Linked DNA regions of Homo sapiens. The protein of the gene in region 1 interacts with the protein of each later gene in a pairwise test. Each region holds a gene or a part of one and is shown in the gene's direction. Other genes may lie near its edges.

The links.
Region 2: the proteins of ESRP1 (region 1) and RBPMS2 interact in binary tests that used the Homo sapiens proteins (3 or more experiments, as listed by UniProt).
Region 3: the proteins of ESRP1 (region 1) and PLD1 interact in binary tests that used the Homo sapiens proteins (3 or more experiments, as listed by UniProt).

The regions. Positions count from the first base shown.
Region 1 is NC_000008.11:94,657,753-94,665,179, forward strand, and holds part of ESRP1 (epithelial splicing regulatory protein 1), read left to right. Parts: intron 1-4,519; coding exon 4,520-4,618; intron 4,619-4,748; coding exon 4,749-4,803; intron 4,804-6,944; coding exon 6,945-7,055; intron 7,056-7,174; coding exon 7,175-7,307; intron 7,308-7,401; coding exon 7,402-7,427. UniProt on the Homo sapiens protein: mRNA splicing factor that regulates the formation of epithelial cell-specific isoforms. Specifically regulates the expression of FGFR2-IIIb, an epithelial cell-specific isoform of FGFR2.
Region 2 is NC_000015.10:64,765,474-64,772,900, reverse strand, and holds part of RBPMS2 (RNA-binding protein with multiple splicing 2), read left to right. Parts: intron 1-7,427.
Region 3 is NC_000003.12:171,681,368-171,688,794, reverse strand, and holds part of PLD1 (phospholipase D1), read left to right. Parts: coding exon 1-119; intron 120-1,210; coding exon 1,211-1,424; intron 1,425-1,996; coding exon 1,997-2,110; intron 2,111-7,427. UniProt on the Homo sapiens protein: Function as phospholipase selective for phosphatidylcholine. Implicated as a critical step in numerous cellular pathways, including signal transduction, membrane trafficking, and the regulation of mitosis.

The DNA.
Region 1 (7,427 bases):
TTTTTACTTTTGATCTCTGTCTTCTTCAGTTGGCTTTTATCTATGAATTTATAAAACTTCTCTCACACTATTGCTCAATAGTCAAATCATAGCTTTCGTGTAATCCCACCTCCATTACCCATCAGCCAGGTGACTGGGTGAACTACTGAACATCACTCAATCCCAGTGGTTTGTTTGCGATGGAGTCTTGCTCTGTTACCCGGGCTGGAGTGCAGCGGCCATGATCTCGGTTCACTGCAACCTCTGCCTCCAGGGTTCAAGCGATTTTTGTGCCTCAGCCTCCTGAGTAGCTGGGATTATAGGCGTCCGCCACCACATCCGGCTAATTTTTGTATTTTTAGTCGAGACAGGAGTTCACCATGTTGGCTAGGCTGATCTCGAACTCCTGACCTCCAAGTGATCCACCCACCTCGGCCTCCCAAAGTGCTGGGATTACAGGCGTGAGCCACCATGCCTAGCCTCACTAAATCTTAGTTCTACAACTGTTTGGTTTTGCTGTAATTTATCTGTCAGGGTTATTATGAGAATTGGAAGAAATAGGGAGTGGTTGGCACAAAATGGTGTCCAGTAAATGCCACCATTTAAGTCAGCAGATCCTTGGAAGCTATAGAGATGTTGATAGGTGGAAAGAGATCAGAGGAAGATGGGGGCCTACACCCAGGAAATGTTACAACAGTCGAGAAAATAGCATAACATTTTAGGAATAGTATCTAATGAACTCTTAAATTGACGATTGTGGCCTAGAACAGTTTTGGTGGGTCATTTGTGGCCTAATTTGGTTAGGGGATTAAGATAAGAGTGCTTTCCTTATAGGGTGGTACCTGAGCACTGTTGAGAAGGCTAGGTAATCCTGCCATTAATAGATGAGAGGAAAGCTTAATTTGAATGGAATATACTTTTATACTCCTTTCAAGTCTAAATTTTCCCCATATTCTTTTTTGAGATTGATTGACAAACATTCCTGTGGCATCCTTTGTATCTGGCCATCTTTTTGCAATCTCCATTCTTCTGTAATAGGTCACAGGTCAATAACCGTTTGCTATAAGGGGCTAGAAAGTCAATGTTAGGTTTTGCGGAGCACATTAGGGTCTGCTCACCCAGGTGCACCTTGTTTTAGTGTGCTTCACTTTATTGTGATTCACAGTTGTTGTATTTTGTCTTTTTTTAAATTTTCATCTTTTATTTTTGAGACAGCATCTTGCTCTGTCACCCAGGCTGGAGTGCAGTGGTGTACTTTTCGACCTCCCAGGCTCAAGCAATCCTCCCACCTCAGCCTCCTGAGTAGATGCAATGACAGGCCAATTTGTTATTTTGTAGAGATGGGGACTCGCTATCTCAGGCTGGTCTTGAATTCCTGGGTTCAAATGATCCTCCCACCTCGGCCTCCCAAAGTGCCGGGATTACAGGCGTGAGCCACCGTGTCTGGCCAGTTTTGTTTTGTTTAAAAAAAAAGAAAATGGAAGGTTTGTAGCAACTCTGCATTCAGCAAGTCTATTGACACCATTTTTCCAACAACATTTGCTCACTTGTCTCTCTGTCACCTTTCAAACTTTTTCATTATTCTGTTGTGGCGATCTGTAATCAGTGATCTTTGTTACTGGTGTAATTGTTTTGGGGCACCATAAAGCAGGGCCATATTAGGTGGCAAACTTAATTGGTCAGTGTTGTGTGTGTTCGGCTGCTCCAACTGGTGGTTACCCCATCTCTCTCCCTCTCCTTGGGACTCCCTATTCCCTGAAACACAATATTGAAATTAAGCCAATTAACCCTACAACAGCATCTAACCTTTCAAATGAAAGTAAGAGTTTCATATCTCTCACTTTAAATCAAAAGCTAGACATGATTAAGCTTAGTCAGGAAGGCATGTCAAAAGCTAAGGGAGGCCAAAAGCCAGGCCTTATGCACCAAATGATTTGTCAAGTTGCGTAAAGGAAAATTTCTTGAATATTCCAGTGAATATATGAATGATAAGAAAGCAAAACATTATAGGGTGTTACCTGAGCAAAGATGAGAAGGCTGGGTACCACTTGTCATTTATAGAAGAGAGGAAAGTGTAATTTGAATGGAATATACTTATTGCTATGATATGGAGAGAGTGTGAGTGGTTTGGATAGATCAAACTAGCTACCACATTTCCTTAAGCCAAAGCGCAATCTGGAGCAAGGCCTTAAGTCTCTTCAATTCTATGAAGGCTGAGAGAAGTGAGGAAGCTGCAGAAGAAAAGCTAGCAGAGATTGGTTTATGAGATTCAAGGAAATAAGTCAGCTCTACGACATAATTCAAAGTGAAGCAGAAAGTGCTTATGGAGAAGTTGCAGTGAGTTACCCAGAAGATTTAGCTAACTGATGAAGGCAGCTACACTAAGCAGATTTTCAATGTACTAGAAACAGCCTTCTCTTAGAAGATGATGCCATCCTGGACTAACATAGCTAGAGAGGATAAATCAATGCTTTGCTTCAAAAGCTGATTCTCTTGTTATAGGCTAATGTAGCTGGTGACTTTTAAGTTAAAGCTAATGGTCATTAACCGTCCTAAAAATCCTAGCGTTCTGAAGAATTATGCTAAATTGGCCGGGGTGGTGACTCATGGCTGTAATCCCAGCCCTTGGGCAGGCCAAGGTAGGTAGATCATTTGAGGCCAGGAGTTCAAGACCAGCCTGGCCAACATGGTGAAACCCCATCTCTACTAAAAAATACAAAAATGAGGTCGGGTGCAGTGGCTCACGCCTATAATCCCAGCACTTTAGGATACTGAGGCAGGTGGATCAGCTGAGGTCAGGAGTTCGAGACCAGCCTGGCCAACATGGTGAAACCCCATCTCTATAAAAATACAAAAATTAGCTGGGTATGGTGGCGCGTGCCTGTAATTCCACCTGCTCGGGAGGCTGAGGTAGAGGTTGCAGTGAGCTGAGGTTGTGCCACTGCATTCCAGCCTGGGCAACAGAGCGAGACTATCTCAAAAAAAAAAAAAAAAAAAAAAAAAAAAAAAAAACCAAAACAAACAAACAAACAAAAAACCAAAGAAAACCAAGAATTACAGTAAGTCAACTCTGCCTGTGCCCTCAAACAGCATCACAGGCTACCGAATCTTTGATGAAAGGAAGAGGCAATTGATGTGGCAAACTTCATTGTTGTCTTATTTTCAGAAATTGCCACAGCCATCCCAACGTTTAGCAACCATCACCCTGATCTATGAGTAGCCATCAACATCTAGGTAAGATCCTCCACCAACAAAAAGATTGACTCACTGAGGGCTCAGATGATTAACATGTTTTAGCAACAAAGTTGTTCTGTTGTTTTTTATTTTTGGAGACAGAGTCTACCTCTCGCCCAGGCTGGAGTGCAGTGGGGTGTTCTCAGCTCACTACAACCTCCACCTCCCGGGTTCAAGCGATTCTCTTGCCTCAGCCTCCTGAGTAGCTGAGATTACAGGCATGCACCACCACGCCTGGTTAATTTTGGTATTTTTAGTAGAGATGGGGTTTCACCATATTGGCCAGGCTTGGTCTCGAACTCCTGGTCTCAAGAGATCCTCCCGCCTCGGCATCCCAAAGTGCTGGGATTACAGGTGTGAGTCACTGTGCCCATCTGCAACAAAGCATTTTTGAATTAAGGCATGTACATTTTTTAAAAGACATAATGCTATTGAATACTTAGAACAGTCAAAACATAACTTTTATATGTAGTGGGAAACACAAAAAATTGTGTGACTTGCTTTATTGTGATATTCACTTTAATGCAGTGGTGTAGAACCAAGCCTACCATATTTTCAAGGTATGCCTCTATTTGATGGAAATACATCCTTATTTTAGAGAGATTCGCAAAACTTCATGTGAATTCCTGGTTTCACCCTCAAACCAAGTTTGAGCTATGTGTTTCAAAGAGTATACTTTTGGTAAAGAAGCACATTGGCCTGTGTTGGCTCTGAGTGCTTGAATTGTTTCCAAAATTTGCTGTCTAGAACTAGCATCTGCTGTCATCAAAGGTGGACTATCCTACAGGGCTCCAAAAGTGTTCTATAATAGAATTTCTAAGCAAAAGTGGCATTGTGGAAGTAATGTCACATCAATAATCTGTGGTGTCCATTTCAAACATTAGGCCAAAAAAAAAGTCATTTAATACCTTGTAGTGTTGATAATGTCACCATATCATGAAGTCGGCATGGTCATTGCCTTGTGTGTGCTGTAAAGATTCAGAGGATGAAATATTCTAATTAACTTTGTTGCATACTTTGATTCAAAATGAAATGAAAATGCTCAGTATTCATTTGCTACAACTGGGTAAATAAAAATTGTATTCCTGGTAATATCTCAGCACTGGATTGATTTGCCTCTTTTACCCAAAAGGGCAGTTGGAGCCTAAGTTGAATGACTGACTGATGGGAGGCAGCCATTCTGAGATTTCTAAAGGAAGCTCAGCTAGATCCATCTTCTTCCTCTTGGCTTGGTATAGGTTTAATTTTGATTTAGAAGTAACCTGATTTTACCTTTCCAAAGTGTTTCCTTAATTTAATCTCACAGATTTAAATTTTGAGAAGAGTAGTTCAGTCTCTCGATATGGAGCCTCTCAAGTTGAAGATATGGGGAATATAATTTTAGCAATGATTTCAGAGCCTTATAGTAAGTATTGCTTTTATAGTAGTGCAGTCCCAGAATTCATACTATTTTTCTCTTACCTATACTCAAATTTCCTCCTACAACTTTGTCTCCCTAATCACTAAAATGATGACTTTTATGTTCTCATTTTTAGATCACAGGTTTTCAGATCCAGAGAGAGTGAATTACAAGTTTGAAAGTGGAACTTGGTAAGTGCTTGAGTACTATTTATTTGAGCTTTTTAACTTGTTTTTTTTTTTTGTCTGTTTGTTTGTTTTTGAGACAGAGTCTTGCTCTGTCGCCCAGGCTGGAGTGCAGTGGCACGATCTCAGCTCACTGCAAGCTCCGCCTCCCGGGTTCATGCCATTCTCCTGCCTCAGCCTCCCGAGTAGCTGGGACTACAGGCTCCCGCTACCATACCTGGCTAATTTTTTTGTAGTTTTAGTAGAGATGGGGTTTCACCATATTAGCCAGGATGGTCTCAATCTCCTGACCTCGTGATCTGCCCGCCTCGCCTCCCAAAGTGCTGGGATTACAGGCGTGAGCCACCTCGCCCGGCCTTTAACTTGTTTTTGTTCATATTGTGCCTCTTAATTCTTGTTATATTTGAGAAACTTTACTAATCCTTTTAGCTATCCTTTCTTGCTGTTCGGTCATCTGTAAAAGAAGGTTGTATTACTTAGAGCTTGATATTGGGAATAAAATGTAATGACTTACTGGCATCTTTAGTCACCCTGACCTTAAGTATATTATATGCTCATATCTGTGATTGTTATTTTGGTCTCCCCAAACTATCCGATCTTTCATTTAGAAAATTTCCAAAGGAGAAATTGTAGGCTTTAATAGAGTTCACAATTTTTACTGAGATAAAATTTTACGTACATTCTATAAGTACATTTATTTATTTATTTATTTTAGTTTTGAGACACTTGCTCTGTTGCCCAGCTGGAATATCGCGGTGTGATCTCTGCTCACTGCAACCTCCGCCTCCCGGGTTCAAGCGATTCTTGTGCCTCAGCCTTCCCAGTAGCTGGGATTACAGATGTGTACCATCATGCCTGGCTAAGTTTTGTATTTTTAGTAGAGATGGGGTTTTGCCGTGTTGACCAGGCTGGTCTCAAACTCCTGGCCTCATGTGATCTACCCACCTTGACATCCCAAAGTGCTGGGATTACAGGTGTGAGCCATTGTGCCTGGCTATATAGGTTTCTACTTTAAAGCCAAGGAAATAGCTGGGGAGAAGTATGAAGTGGTGTCTGTTAGTGATCGCAGGTAGACCTGTTTGTAAATCACTCTAATGAATTGAGTGTGTGCTTGGTCTCTGAAGTGAATAGAAACTTCTGACAGCTTTGCCCATAGAGAGAGACTTTGAGGCCGATTAGTTGTGGAGAAAGTGACTTATTAAGAAAATGTCCTAGGAGAACTGAAAATGTGAACGTGGGAGGGATAAGACATCAAAAGGTGTCAAAATATATAATAAGTGATTTGCAAATGAGTCATTAAGGTGTAGGGACTCACAGGCATTTCTATGGACATTCTCTGGGATGGCTCCCTGGTTTGATCTGGGGGATATTTTAATGGCAGACTTCCTACCATGCACACACATTCCTCATGTGGGTTAATTGTCAGCTTTATTCTGATCCTAAATTCGGCTGCTAAACTGGATTTAAACCCCACATGTATACTGTCTAGATTTGAGAATGAATTCAAACCTATCTTTTGGGGTTCTAGGAACTTTCAGGACATGAGGGTGCCAAGCAAACATTTCCTCAGCTTTTTTTTTTTTTTTTTTTTTGAGAGGGAGTCTTGCTCTATTGCCCAGGCTGGAGTGCAGTGGCACAATCTCAGCTCACTGCAGCCTCCACCTCCCAGGTTCAAGTGATTTTCCTGCCTTGGCCTCCCAAGTAACTGGGATTATAAGCGTACACCACCATGCCCGGCTAATTTCTGTAATTTTAGTAGAGACGGGGTTTTACCATGTTGGCCAGGCTGGTCGCAAACTCCTGACCTCGGGTGATCCACCTACCTCAGCCTCCCAAAGTGCTGGGATTACAGACATAAGCCACCACGCCTGGCCTTCCTCAGCTTTGATAGATAGATGGTTTGCTGAGTGAGCTAGCTGTGTTGGGCCTGCACAGGCAGCCATGTTTCTATAATGAACCACCTAAACAGTACTTTGAGTTGTACCCACATAATTTTTGAGGTTATAAGGAAAATCAAGTAGTATTGCTAGTCTGTCTGAACACCAAATAATACATCCTGTGTAACTAGGCAGTTGTCTTGCAGGGGGTAATAGGTGTCTGACTTGCTAGCATTTATCATGCAACCTGAAGTTTTGCTTCATCCACAGCAGCAAGATGGAACTTATTGATGATAACACCGTAGTCAGGGCACGAGGTTTACCATGGCAGTCTTCAGATCAAGATATTGCAAGATTCTTCAAAGGACTCAATATTGCCAAGTTGGTTTTCTTAAATATCTATTTTACTTAACAATCCCAAAGGGATAATGGATTTTCTATCTTTTTTTTCCTCACTGTATTTTTTTTTCTACCTGCTGTCTGTTTTATTATTCTCAAAGGGGAGGTGCAGCACTTTGTCTGAATGCTCAGGGTCGAAGGAACGGAGAAGCTCTGGTTAGGTTTGTAAGTGAGGAGCACCGAGACCTAGCACTACAGAGGCACAAACATCACATGGGGACCCGGTATATTGAGGTATGTCCTCAAAACCTGAACCCCTGGACATCGTGAATGAGAATTAACATAGGACGGAAGGCTCAGAAACACTAACTTCTCTGTCTTTTCTCAGGTTTACAAAGCAACAGGTGAAGATTT
Region 2 (7,427 bases), on another chromosome or scaffold:
ATGTCATACGCATTAAGTTTTCTTTCTGGACCCAGGGGTTAAGGATACAAGTGAAAATTCTCAGCCTAGGAGGTCGGAAGGACTTGCCAGGAAGTGGTGGTAGGTGAAATGCAATGATAGATAAAATAAAGGCATATGAGCACATGGTACCATGGTGCTCCTGAGAGATTAGAGGTCAGCCTTCCCTGAGATGTGGGTGAGTAGGAGGAGCAAGGTTAGACCTGTGGGGGTGGAAAAGGCATTCCAAGAGGAGGGAGTCGCATGTATAAGTGAGGAGGTAGGTTTGTGTAACCACATGGCTTGTTTGGGTAACTACCTGGAGTTTGCTATATTGCAGCAATATCAGGCAGTGCAGCCATAATGAGAGTTTGGAATTAGGGCAGTAATGACTGTGGTATTACGGGAAAATTGGCATTTTTCTGCCACTTGGGAAGATGTGTTCGAAGCTTTGATACCCTTTGAAAGCTAAGGAGGGCAGTAAGGAATTAAGGGGAGGAGCTGAATGTCCCTCCCAATCTAGAGGTTGTGCTGTCCTGCAGGTAAGTCTTGACTGGAGCTGGGGACGACATGAGGTAATACAGTACATGAACCTGTCCGGGGCAGGCTGTATCAGTGCTGCCAAACTTCAGACCTAAATGTCCTGTCTTAGTGATTCTCAAGGGATAACTGGGTAATTACCATGTCTCTGAAGAGGGGTAAATGTGATTTCTATTTTGAAAGTGGAGACCTTGCTTTCATAATACAGTTGCTGTTGGCCTTCCATTTCTATGGGTTCCCTATCCATGAATCCAGTTGTAGATAAAAAATACAATAATAAAAAATAATACAAATAAATATAACAACTATTTACATAGCATTCACATTGTATTAGGTATTGTGAATAATCTAGAGATGAGTTAAAGTATCCAGAAAATGTGCATAGGTTATTTTTTTATTTGTTTGAAGGGGAGTTTCACTCTTGTCACCCAGGCTGGAGTGCAGTGGCACAATCTCAGCTCACTGCAACCTCTGCCTCCCAGGTTCAAGCAATTCTCCTGCCTCAGCCTCCTGAGTAGCTGGGATTACAGGTGCCCGCCACCATACCTGGCTAATTTTTGTTTTTTAGTAGAGACAGGATTTCACCATGTTGGCCAGGCTGGTCTTGAACTCCTGTCCTCAGGTGACCTGCCCACCTCAGTCTCCCAAAGTGCTGGGATTACAGGCCTGAGCCACGGCGCCCAGCCTTGTTTTGTTTTTGAGACAGTCTCTGTTGCCCAGATTGGGGTGCAGTGGCGCAATCTCGGCTCACTGCAACCTCCTCCCAGGTTCAAGTGATTCTCCTGCCTCAGCCTCCAGGATTGCAGGTGCACGCCACCATGCCTGGCTAATTTTTGTATTTTTAGTAGAGACGGGGTTTCACCATGTTGGCCAGGCTGGTCTTGAACTCCTGACCTCAAGTGGTCCATCCAGCTCGGCCTCCCAAAGTGCTGAGATTACAGACGTGAGCCACCGTGCCCGGCCTGTGCATAGGTTATATACAAATTTTATATAAGAGACTTGAACATCTGGAGATGTTGATATCCAAGGGGGAACCCTGGAACCAATCCGCCTCAGATATCGAGGGACAACTAAACGGTACGAGGTGATACTAAGTTATAGTAATTTTTAAAAACCACTTTTTTGAGGTATGATTGGCATATATAAAGGTGTATATTTAGTGTATACAACTTGAAGAGTTTGGAGATTGTTAAAGTAATTTTTAACTGGGGGGCACCCCTGGAAGGGGGAGAGTGGTATTTATACTATTGGGTTGAGGGAGGATATAAGTTTCTTAAGAGTTAAAAAAGTTTTTGCCAGCTTAATGGTAAGCTATAGAAAGGCAGGGGTTAATGGCAGCTAAGGGGGCTACAGTTTGACCTGAGGGGCTTTGCCCTTCCCTGCCCTTCCACCTCATCCCAGTGTGGCTGGGACAGGGCTGCTGCTTGCAGGCCTGGTATCCTAGAGCCCATCATGTGTCCTCAGAGGGGTGTCAGGAAGCAGCCAGAGCCCTGGGACCACTGGGTGGCTTGAGGTCAGCCCTCCCTGAGATGTGGGTGAACAGGTGCTTAGACTTGTGTGGATGGAACGGGGAGGGGGGTGTGGGAGGTGGGGGATAAGGCACTCTAGATGAGTGCGAGGTAATTCCTGGATCCAGTGTGCTATTTGGGCACCTCCCTTTTCTTTAACATCAATAGCATTTGAAAGCATCTGGGACATCTTGGTCTGCAGGCTTTTTTTGAATATGAGGGAATGGAGGCTTCTCTGTTTCTGGGCACTCACCTAGAAGCCCTGCCAGGCATATAGCAGTAGGAGGTCAGGTTCCCCTCCTCACTGGGAGTTATTGTGGATGTGTCCCCTCTGCCTAAGTAATCTAAGGGAGAGGCTGTACTAATAATAATGAACCTGTATGTTGTATTTATGCCAGGCATTGTTATATGTTCTGCACCATTTTAACTCTTAATCTTTGTAAGAGCATTATGAAGTACTTACATTATTATCACCATTTCATAAATGAGGAAAGTGAGGCACAGAGAGGTTAAATAACTTTCATGTAGCTATTAAGTGGGGAGGTTGGGATTTGAACCCAGAGTTTGCTCTTAACCACACAGTATACTGCTATTGTGTTTTATATTAGGGTTTTTGGTGAGACTGGAAGGCAGGGGGAGAAAGGTATCTGCAATTTTCTTTTTTTTTTCTTTTTTTTGAGACGGAGTCTCGCCATGTCACCCAGGCTGGAATGCAGTGGTATGATCTTGGCTCACTGCAACCTCTGCCTCCCAGGTTCAAGCGATTATCCTGCCTCAGCCTCCCAAGTAGCTGGGATTACAGGCGCGCACCACTACGGCCAGCTAATTTTTATATTTTTAGCAGAGACGGGGTTTCACTGTGTTGGTCAGGCTGGTCTCGAACTCTTGACCTCCTGATCCTCCTGCCTCGGCCTCCCAAAGTGCTGGGATTACAGGCGTGAGCCACCGCGCCCAGCCGGGTATCTGCAATTAAAGTTTCTAATGGCTGAGTTTTGGGTGATGCCAACCAGAAGCCCAGAGGCTGACTCCGGACTAGTTTCCTTTGGGCTGGTGGCATCCCAAGATGGGTGATGGGAGCTGTCAGCCCCTGCCAGGAGGGGCCTTTTATCACAGATATGATTTAGAGTTGCCATTGCACGAAGATAATAAACAAACCAAGCCAGTTTTATTTTATTTTTATTTATTTATTTATTTTTGAGATGGAGTCTCGCTCTGTCGCCCAGGCTGAAGTGCAGTGGCGCGATCTCAGCTCACTGCAAGCTCTGCCTCCTGGGTTCACGCCATTCTCCTGCCTCAGCCTCCAGAGTAGCTGGGACTACAGGCGCCCGCTGCTACGCCCGGCTAATTTTTTGTATTTTTTAGTAGAGATGGGGTTTCACCGTGTTAGCCAGGATGGATTTTATTTTTTAAATTCTTTTTTTTTTTTTTTTTGAGACGGAGTTTCGCTCTTGTTGCCCAGGCTGGAGTGCAATGGCGCGATCTCGGCTCACCGCAACCTCCACCTCCTGGGTTCAAGCAATTCTTCTGCCTCAGCCTCCCAAGTAGGGGGATTATAGGCATGTGCTACCACGCCCAGCTAATTCTGTATTTTTAGTAGAGATGGGGTTTCTCCATGTTGGGAGGCCTCGGCCTCCCAAAGTGCTGGGATTGCAGATGTGAGCCACTGCACCTGACCTAAATTCTTTTTTAAAAAATCTATATCCTTACACATCTTGCATATTTTTAAAATTCTTTTTTTTTTTTTTTTTTTTTTTTGAGACGAAGTCTTGCTCTGTCGCCCAGGCTGGAGTGCAGTGGCACGATCTCTGCTCACTGCAAGCTCCGCCTCCCGGGTTGACGCCATTCTCCTGCCTCAGCCTCCCAAGTAGCTGGGACTACAGGTGCCCGCCACCATGCCCGGCTAATTTTTTTGTATTTTTAGTAGAGACGGGGTTTCATCGTGTTAGCCAGGATGTTCTCAATCTCCTGACCTGGTGATCCACCCACCTTGGCCTCCCAAAGTGCTGGGATTACAGACATGAGCCACGGCGCCCGGCCTTAAATTCCTTTTTTTTTTTTTATAGACGGGGTCTCTGTTGTTGCCCAGGCTGGAGTGCAGTGGCATGATCATAGCTCACAGCAGCCTCGATCTCCTGGGCTCAAATGATCTTCCCACCTCAGCCTCCCTAGTAGGTAGGACTACCAGCACCATGCCCAGCTAATTTTTTTTTTTTTCCTCGAGACAGAGTCTTGCTTTGTTGCCCAGGCTAGAGTGCAGTGGCGCAATCTCGGCTCACTGCAATCTCTGCCTCTTGGGTTCAAGTGATTCTTCAGCCTCATCCTCCCGAGTAGCTGGGGTTACAGGCACCCGCTACCACACCTGGCTAAGTTTTGTATTTTTAGTAGAGATGAGGTTTCACCATGTTGGCAGGCTGGTCTCGAACTCCTGACCTTAGGTGATCCGTCTGTCTTGGCCTCCTAAAGTGCTGGGTTATAGGTTTGAGTCACTGCACCTGGCCTCGGCTAATTTTTTGTAGAGACAGTGTCTGCTTTGCTGCCCAGGCTGCTCTCGAACTTGTGGCCTCAAACGATTGTCCTGCCTTGCCTCCCAAACTGCTGGGGTTACAGATGTGAGTTGCCACGCCCAAGCAGTTTTATTTTAAATTCTCTACAAATGGCACACTTACTTATTTCCTGTACCTGGGCGTGACTACTTTCACACACTCCTCCACTACCCATTGCTTTGGGCATTTTAACTAAAGAAACGATTCTTGCTCTAAAGAGCCATTTGGCTGATATTCTGGGGGACATTCTTTTGTGTCTCGTTATCCCTTCCTTTTCCACATACGGGCAATCTGTTTAGTCTGCCCCAGAGAGAACCAGTTTCTAAATCCCACTCAAGGAGGCCAGCCAGGCATGTTGGCTCATGCCTGTAATCCCCTGCATTTTGGGAGGCCAAGGCAGGAGGATCACTTGAGCCTGGGAGTTCAAGACCAGCCTGGGCAACATGATTAAACCCCGTCCTTACAAAAACAAAAAAGTAGCTGGGTGTGATGGTGCATGCCTGTAGTCCCAGCTACTCAGGAGGCTGAGGTGGGAGAATGACTTAAACCTGGGAGGCAGGGGTTGCAGTGAGATCGTGCCACACTGCACTCCAGCCTGGGTGACAGAGCGAGACCTTGTCTCAAAAGAAAAAAAAATCCCACTCAAGGCTGGGACATGCTGGCTTCCTCCTCCCCATGTCCAGGGTGGGACTGGCAAGCGCCGTAAGTAGAGGAAGCCATGGCTGGTGGGTGCTGAGCCTTTGCTTGGCTCTCATGCTCTGAACCCTTTTATCCTTCGGGGCCTCAGGACAATCCTGCGAGCTGGAGGCAGGGTGAGTCCTGCCTGCCCTGAGTACTGAGCTCCTGGTCCAAGATTACCCAGAACTGAACTACAGTGCTGGGTTCTGGATCTGCTCTGGCATTGGTTATGGGCAGCAGCGACATCTGGTGTCACGTCACTTCCTCTGTCTTCCGCCCATGGCTGCCACAGAAGGATCCACACGCCTCTGGCAAACCATGAGGCAGTGGGGCAGAACCTGTCCCCTACACTTCAGAAATGATGCTGCCTAGCTGGGCATGTTGGCACACGCCTGTAGTCTCAGCCTGTCAGGAGGCTGAGGTAGGAGGATCGCTTGAGCCCGGGAAGTCGAGGCTGCAGTGAGCCAGTATCCCACCACTGCACTTGAGCCTGGGTGATAGAGTGAGAGCCCCTGTCTCAAAAAAAAAGAGAGAAAAAAAAAGTAAAAAACCGAAAAACTCGGTGGCTTATGCCTGTAATTCCAGCACTTTAGGAGACTGAAGTGGGTGGATCACTTGAGCCCAGGAGTTCAAGACCACCCTGGGCAATGTGGTGAAACCCCATCTCTACTAAAAATACAAAAATTAGCTGGGTGTGGCCGTGAGCACCTGTAATCCCAGCTACTCAGGAGGCCGAGGCAGGAGAATTGCTTAAACTTGGGAGGCGGAGGCCACTTAATGAGACTTGGTCTCAAAAAACAAAAACAGGCCAGGCACAGTGGCTCAGGCCTGTAATCCCAGCACTTTGGGAGGCTGAGGCAGGTGGATCACGAGGTTAGGAGATCGAGACCATCCTGGCTAACACGGTGAAACCCAGTCTCTACTAAAAATACAAAAAAAAAATTAGCCGGGTGTGGTGGCAGGCGCCTGTAGTCCCAGCTACTAGGGAGGTTGAGGCAGAAGAATGGCGTGAACCCGGGAGGCAGAGCTTGCAGTGAGCTGAGATTGCGTCATGCAGTCCAGCCTGGGATACAGAGCGAGACTCCATCTTAAAAAAAAAAAAAAGCCACCATTAAGTCAGAACTGTGGGCAGCCTATGAGGCTTCATATGCCAGAACCCGTCCACTGCCTGTCCAGGCACTGGCATAGCCTCCTTGTATTCTGCTTCTTCCCATATTCCACCCTTTGATGGAGAGAGTACGGTTACTTCTGATACGTGCCAACACTAGACAGGTGACAGGATTGTTGGGCCCTCCCTTCCTGAAGAGTGCACTGGTGGCTGTATCAGCGTTGGAGGCCTCTGGAGTGCAGCAGGGCCTGGGTGTGGTGGGAGCGTTTGCCTAGGCGCATCTGCCTTGGCTGTCAGTCAACTCACGGCCAACTGAGCAGAGGCTCTTGACTGTCACAAGCTATCAAGGCCACCTCCAACCTCCAAGGAGGACGGACAGAGCCTGACTTGGACCAGGCCATGGCAGAAGTCTGGAGTACTTCGCCCTTCTTTGTGGTTAACCAACCTCCCCCTCCTCAACTATCTTTTAGTGCAGGTAGGGGCAGGGAGTTAGGAGAGGATACTGGCATAGGAGCTGAGACCATTTTTTTTTTTTTTGAGACAGTCTCGCTCTGTTGCCAGGCTGGAGTGCAGTGGCTCAGTCTTAGCTCACTGCAACCTCCGCCTCCCAGGTTCAAGCAATTCTCCTGCCTCAGCCTCCTGAGTAGCTGGGATTACAGGTGCCTTCCACCATGCCCAGCTAATTTTTTACACTTGATCTTAGCCAAAAGGCAGAGAAGCGATCTGGCTAATTTTTTGTATTTTTAGTAGAGATAGGGTTTCGCCATGTTGGCCAGGGTGGTCTCGAACTCCTGACCTCGTAATCCGCCCACCTCGGCCTCCCAGAGCGCTGGGATTACAGGTGTGAGCCACCGTGCCTGGCCCATTTTTGAAGAACTATTGATGAAAAGGCTCTGCACCTTCCAGTTTTTGCCCAGACTGGTCCCCCCCCGCCCTTTTTTTTATTCTGACACAGGATCTCGTTTTGTTGCCCAGGCTGGAGTGTAGTGGCATGATTACGGCTCACTGTAGCTTCGAGCTCCTGGGCTCAAGCAATCCCCCAGCTTCAGCCTC
Region 3 (7,427 bases), on another chromosome or scaffold:
TGGCCTTTGTGGGAGGGATTGACCTGGCCTATGGAAGGTGGGACGACAATGAGCACAGACTCACAGACGTGGGCAGTGTGAAGCGGGTCACTTCAGGACCGTCTCTGGGTTCCCTCCCAGTAAGTATATTTAACCTTTATGGAAATGTATAACACGAACATAATTTGTATAAGTTTGTATTAGTAGCATGACTGATTGATTCATTGAATAAGAGATGGTGTCTCCTTGGAGGGGAAAAGAACATTTTAAGTCAATCATGAGACAGACCTGGTTTCAAACACCAGCTTCCCCACCTAGCTAGCTGTAACTTAGCATTGCTGAGTCTGTTCTTCTCTTGTAAGAAAAGAAAACAGATTCAGTGGAATTTTGGCTGTCCCATATTCAGCTTTGTTTTCCATTTTAATTAAGATTTATTTTTTATTCAGAAATAAGATTCATAAACAAAAATATGTGGCAATTGAGATTTAGGTAGTAAAAAGCCTTAAGTATCTGCCACAGTTTTTGGAAAGTTCCTACTTAAAGATATACAAAAACAGGATAGGTCAGTCTGGGGTCATTTAGAGGGAATTTGAGCCAGAAGTGAATAACTTCCCAAAGTGCCTTTTAAATAGAGCTGCCAAAATATCTGTATGTGTATATCAATCTGCTTGCTATTTCAACTAAATGGCTGCCAGAATATGAATACACTTATTAAAAAAAGTGTATATCAATCTGCTTGCTATTTCAACTAAATGGCTGCCAGAATATGAATACACTTATTAAAAAATTTGATGGGCTTCATCTTATTTACTGCTGGAAAATAGTGCAAAACTTATGCAAAAATAGCAATTTAGTGCATAAGGAACAGGGAAAATGATTGACAGAGGAAGCCTTGCTTACTTAATGTTTATTAGAGGAACAAGTTCAGGAGCTCAACACTGAATGTAACCCATGTAATTGTATTTGAGATTAAAAGTTTAATTGGAGTGAAATTTCAAGAATTTGGCCTACTGAAAAAAGACCATAGCAGAACTCCTCATATTCCTTTGGTAGTTTTTAAACAGTTCACAAGAATCCACCACTACCCTGTGGCTGACCTCAGACATTATTGCATGTCTGTTATAGAACCTCCATCATTTGTAAACTTTATACTTCAGCTCTACTTGAATTAAAGAACCACACTGCAGCATGTCTTATGCAGTGTCTTTTTTTAAAAAAAAATTTTTCTCAGCCTGCCGCAATGGAGTCTATGGAATCCTTAAGACTCAAAGATAAAAATGAGCCTGTTCAAAACCTACCCATCCAGAAGAGTATTGATGATGTGGATTCAAAACTGAAAGGAATAGGAAAGCCAAGAAAGTTCTCCAAATTTAGTCTCTACAAGCAGCTCCACAGGCACCACCTGCACGACGCAGATAGCATCAGCAGCATTGACAGCACCTCCAGTAAGTCATGGCCTTGACTAGAATTTATCTTAACTACCCACTGTTCTTCCATAGCCAGACACTACATACCTGTTTTTAAAATCTGTCTTTCTGTAATGGAGTAGAATGAGCAATGTTGAGAGGTCGCTATATCATTCTATTCAACCTCATGCCATTTGGTGGCTTTGTTTGCCTCATTTTAGAACAGATTTATTGTTTTATCCACACAAAAGTCATAACGACCACGATTACCACTTCTAATGGTAGCAGAATGACAAAGGGTTTCTAAAATATGCCAAGCCATAAAAGAAAAAGGTATTAGATGTACTTTATAAACTTTTCTTAGAAGAAATTACATTTATCTTCCTATCCAGAAATATATCAAGCTTATTTCGTCAAACATCAGACTTTCTACATCTTGTAAATTTACTATTCCTTTGAAATCCATCTTAAAGCCCTACAATTTTCTGTTGCACAGAATCTTAAGACTGATGTTATAGCCCTGCCTGGTTTTAAAAATGATCAGCTTTGCTTTCCAGTTTAGAAAATTTGATATTTGTATTTTTTTGTAAAAAAATTCTTAATTTCTCTAGGTTATTTTAATCACTATAGAAGTCATCACAATTTAATCCATGGTTTAAAACCCCACTTCAAACTCTTTCACCCGTCCAGTGAGTCTGAGCAAGGACTCACTAGACCTCATGCTGGTAAGTAATTTGTGAAGTGGCAGAACTCCCTTAGGCTTGAGCTTTGGTTGTGTTGTCTGCTGCATGGGCATAGTGAATGTGTTTCCAGATTGGCTTTCTGTTTGCAATTTTTATGCTACGTATATTATTGAGAGCCTGCTCTGTGCAAAGCATTCTGTAGTATCCAAGATCCCTACTCCCTAAGAACTTATAGCAGCAAAGACAAAACAGACCTAATAAGAGAAAATGCATGGCACATGCAATTCAATAGTGTCATGGAAGTTCTATGGAAGGAGGGAGGAATTCCTCTCTGATGATGCAGAAAGACTTTTTGAGGAGGGGACATTTGGGTTAGGCCTGGAAGTAATTTAATTGGGGTAGGTGATAGGAAGTCATTGCAAGTGAGGGAGGTGAGTTGAGCAAAGGTGCTGGAATGGGAAAGCACCAACTGCTTTCAAATTGTGTAAAATGCATTATTTAGCTAAAATGCAGTTTTTGATATAAGACTAAGAAGATATATGACATTCACATTTGGGAGCTGGAATTTTATTTGGTTAAAAATCTTTTTTTTTTTTTTTTTTTGAGATAGAGTCTTGCTCTGTCACCCAGGCTGCAGTGCAGTAGGGCCGTCTTGGCTCACTGCACCCTCCGCCTCCCAGGTTTTAGCGATTCTCCTGCCTCAGCTCAGCCTCCTGAGTAGCTGGGATTATAGGCGTGCATGACCGTGCCTGGCTAATTTTTGTACTTTTAGTAGAAATGGGGTTTTGCCATGTTGGCCAGGCTTGTGTTGAACCCCTGACCTCAAGTGATCCGTCTGCCTTGGCCTCCGAAAGTGCTGGGATTACAGGTGTGAGCCACCGCTCCTGGCCAGTTAAAAATCTTGAAGGCCTTTGGGTGGATGTGTCATGCTGTGTGAATTTTCAGAAATTACAATCTGATAGCCTTTGGTAAGAAGATACTCCAGATACTCGAGGAATTAATGAATGACTAATAAGTTTAACTTGTGGTGGGAATAAAGAAGGATTTGGCCGCTGGTCAGATATGGGGATAAGTAATCATCATAATAAATGACACTAGTAAGATCATAAGCTAACATTTATTTTGCACAGACTCTATCCATCACTGCCCTGAGTAGTTGCAGTGCTTGGTAGTGATATTGTCATCTCCTTTTTACAGATGAAGAAACTCAGGGTTAGAGATGATACATGACCTGCCCAATGGAGTTCCAATTTATCATCCTCCCAGTGCCCATAATTAAGACCTGTGATTTAGCAGAAATAAAGATTACTATGTTATGCTTTTTTGGCTAGAACCTAAGGCCAGGGCTCTCATGTCCTGTTTAGCAGATGAGAGTTACAGTCTAGCTCACATGCCTGAATGTGAGTCACCTGTGGCTTGCAGGTGCTAATGAACCTGAAAAATTATGCTAGACTTTGAGTAATGATTCCCAGCATTCTTTCATCTAGGGCAGGGGTGTCCAATCTTTTGGCTTCCGTGGACCACATTGGAAGAAGAATTGTCTTGGGCCACACATAAAATATACTAACACTAATGATAGCTGATGAGCTAAAAAAAGTTGCAAAAAAAAATTACAATGTTTAAGAAAGTTTGTGAATTCGTGTTGGGCCACATTCAAAGCCATCCCGGGCCGCATGTGGCCCACAGGCTGTGGGTTGGACAAGCTTGGTCCAGCTACGCTGCATTTTAAAAAATGCAATAATCAACTACACACAATGAACTAAAACTTCAGTGTAACTGTTAAATAAATTTGTGTCTATAAATCATAACAGCATCGATATATATTTAAGAATGGAGAAGAGGCCAGGTGCAGTGACTCACACCTGTAATCCCAGCAATTTGGGAGGCTGAAGCAGGAGGATTGCTTGAGCCCAGGAATTCAAGACCATCTTCGGCAACGCAGTGAAACCCCCTCTCTACAAAAATTAGCTGAGTGTGGTGGCATGCATCTGTTGTCCCAGCTTTTCTGGCAGCTGAGGTGGGAGAATTGCTGGAGCCTGGAAGGCAGAGGTTGCAGTGAGCTGAGATCATGCCACTGCAGTCCAGCCTGGGTGACAGAGGGAGACCCTCTCTCACACACACAAAAACAATTTTTAAATTTTTGAAAAATAAAAATGGAGAAGAACAAATATGGGGAGACATATATTTATTTAGCATACACCTAGTACTGGGTGTATGTGTGGATTCAGGGACAACTCCCAGTAATTCCTGTGCATGACAAAGCTTCAAAGTCCTGGGAAGTAGGAGGCCTCTGGGAAATCTAGGAAGCCAGGTCAAGAGTGCATGCAGTGGCCGATATTAGAGGTAAAGGGTTGGAAACAGCTCCAGGTAGTGCCTTATCGTTTCAATGTGTAACTTTGCTGCTTTATTACTGAAGTTAAAAATGAAGTGGAGGAAAGGAGGTTGCCAACCCATGAAGATTATGGATCTGAATTATGACTGATAGTGTTGCTGGCAATAGGATTGACAGCAAGTGGAAAAGATGTGAGTGAGGTGCTGAGTCCAGTAAGTAACTCACGCCTACCCCAGGTTGACAGAGGTGATATCCACAGTGGTGATCTGAGACACTGATCATACATGTGTATGGTGTTGCTGATGAAAAGTACCCTTGACATCTGTTTACAACCCCTCACTGATAAACTGAATATATGTCTAGTGTAGCATTGTTGAGAGACAGAGAGAGAGATAGAGAGAGAGAACAACCTAAACGTCAAAGAGTAGGGAAATGGTGAAGAACATAATGAATGGTAACAAATGGTTCATCTCTTTTATGGAATTGGGCAATGATTACAACTGTAGTTGGGGATACAAAAATAAACATAGAAGATTTATTTATTTAATTAAATAAGTGTTTATTGAGTTTCTGTTATATGCCAATCACTATTCTGGGTGCTAGAGATGTGGTGAATAAAACAGATGAAGTGCAATTAACTAGTTGGAGGGTAAGGATGGGAACTGTGTATACAAATAGAGAGTCAAACACATTTCAGGTGGTGATAATTATCACGGAGAATAGTTGAGCATGATCCGGGAGGAAGAGCATAGGAGAAGAGTTACTATTTTGTAAAGGCTCATCGGAGAATACATCTCTCATGAGGTTAGTTTTCAGCTGACATCGAAAGAAAGAGAAGAATGAGGATAAGAAACTGAGAGAGGGTGTTTCCGACAGAAGGAATAGCAAGTATGAAAGGCCATGAGGTAGAGGGGTTGGGTGTGTTCCAGGAATACGGCTGTAGTGAAGTGGGCTAGGAGAGGATGATAAGAACAAAATCAGAGAGGTGGGCTGGGGTGGGTTATGTGAGGTCTTGCAGACCACTGTAAGATTTTGACCCTGAGTGAGATAGGAAGTCATCGGATGGTCTTGAGCGAAGGGTAGGCGAGGGCTGACTTACATTTTCCAAGGATCATTCTTCAGAGCAGACCAGGGTGGCAAATGGTGACTCTGCAGGTTGTGAATATATTTTGAGGGTCGAGCTGACAGCATTTGCCGATGAACTAGATACAAGATGTGAGAGATGGAGAGGACTCCAAATCTTTGGCCCCACTGGAAAGATGGAATTTCCATGAACTGAAATGAGGTGGCTATGGGAAGAGCAAGGAAAATTTGAGGACAATTGCCACTGTATCAAAATATGTTCGTGAAGGCAGCTGACAAAGGACATTCAATGATGCTATCTTTGTTAGGAAGATGGAGCGTGAGGTGATTTATTTTTTTCCCACATTGTTGGTACTGTTTTCATTTTACTTTTATAGTCAAATATAAATACAAATTTAATTTTTTAAAATGAAAACAGTTTACCTAAAAAGAAAAGCCAAAGGATCATGGGGTCCTTCTAGAGCAGTGCTTTCCAAAGTCGATTCCTTGGATCCTGGAGTTTTTAAAAGGCTTTGAGGAGAACATTGAAGTAGGTGAACCCCAGGACCCTCCCACAGCTATTGGTACCTCTTCAACCAGAACAATCCCACTTGTATCTGTTTTAATTATTGGAGTTCCTTCTGAACTTGTTTTCAAAAAAGAAAAGTTCTACTAAAAAAATGAAGGAAGTTTAAAGAGCAAGGCTCTAGATTTAAATCATGTAATACCTTAAAAACTCAGGTTGCCTTATAAAACTTGAAACCCAAATTAAGCATGGAGTGACTCTTCGTTAGAAATTTAAAACTGAATATGAACTTGAGTTAATGACTTCCTTTTCCTGAGAATGCAAAGAGAGTTAGCCTCTCTGCAATATCAATTTCACTTGACCGCATATGACCATGTTGAATTGGGCTCCTTGTTGAATTAAACCTCCTGGTGTCATACAGAAATCAGTGTGGAGTGAACATCACTATGGGTTTTTATATAGAAAAACTGCACTAAAAACGTGGTTAGGAATCATATCTGAAATATATGTTTTTCAAAATCACTCAGTCATTTTCAAGATTTTTTTTCATTCAGAATTATGTTCTAAGAGGGAGAATTTTGCTTGATACTATTTTTAAAGTGTTGAATTTTATTCCCTTTCTTTCTTTCTTTCTTTCTTTTTCTTTCTTTCTTTCTTTCTTTCTTTCTTTCTTTCTTTCTTTCTTTCTTTCTTTCTTTTTCTTTCTGTATTATACTTTAAGTTCTGGGATACACGTGCAGAACATGCAGGTTTGTTACATAGGTATACAAGTGCCACAGTGGTTTGCTGCACCCATCAACCTGTCATCTACATTAAGTGTTTCTCCTAATGCTATTCAGCAACTATGTGCTGATCTTTTCCTTTTAAGCAATATTAAATAGGTAAGTGAGGGAAAAATTATTTTTGCAATTTAGTTGAGACAGGCTTTTCAAATTTGAATGTCTCGTCACAAGGGATAATATTAAGCTGTTTCTAAACTGTTCTTAGGAATGCAATGGATAGGATGTGTAAGATTCATCTAGTGCTGTTAAATAGCTTGTTATCTAATAGGTGAGCATGAGTTTTAAATATTTTACAAACCTAATATTTTAGTAATTCATTGAGGGAAGATACTCCTACTGCAAGAGTCATCATTGATCCACAGACGAAATACAGGTCTACAAACCCTTAACCACGATTCTAAATTCCAAAAAATTTTGAAAACCAAAATATTTTTTAAAATATAACTTGTTCAGTGCCTGTATTGGAACTGGCCTTGAACATATGTAGAAATTCGGTAGGTAGAGACTAAAAAGGTAGAAAAACAGGCATTTTAGGTAGATACTACATCTTAAGACCCAGATATAGGAAATGCAAAAGTATTTATTTCGGCATCTCAGACTGAGTGTAGAATGTGGTAAATACATATAGGTCTATAATCTCTCATACAAAATCCTTGG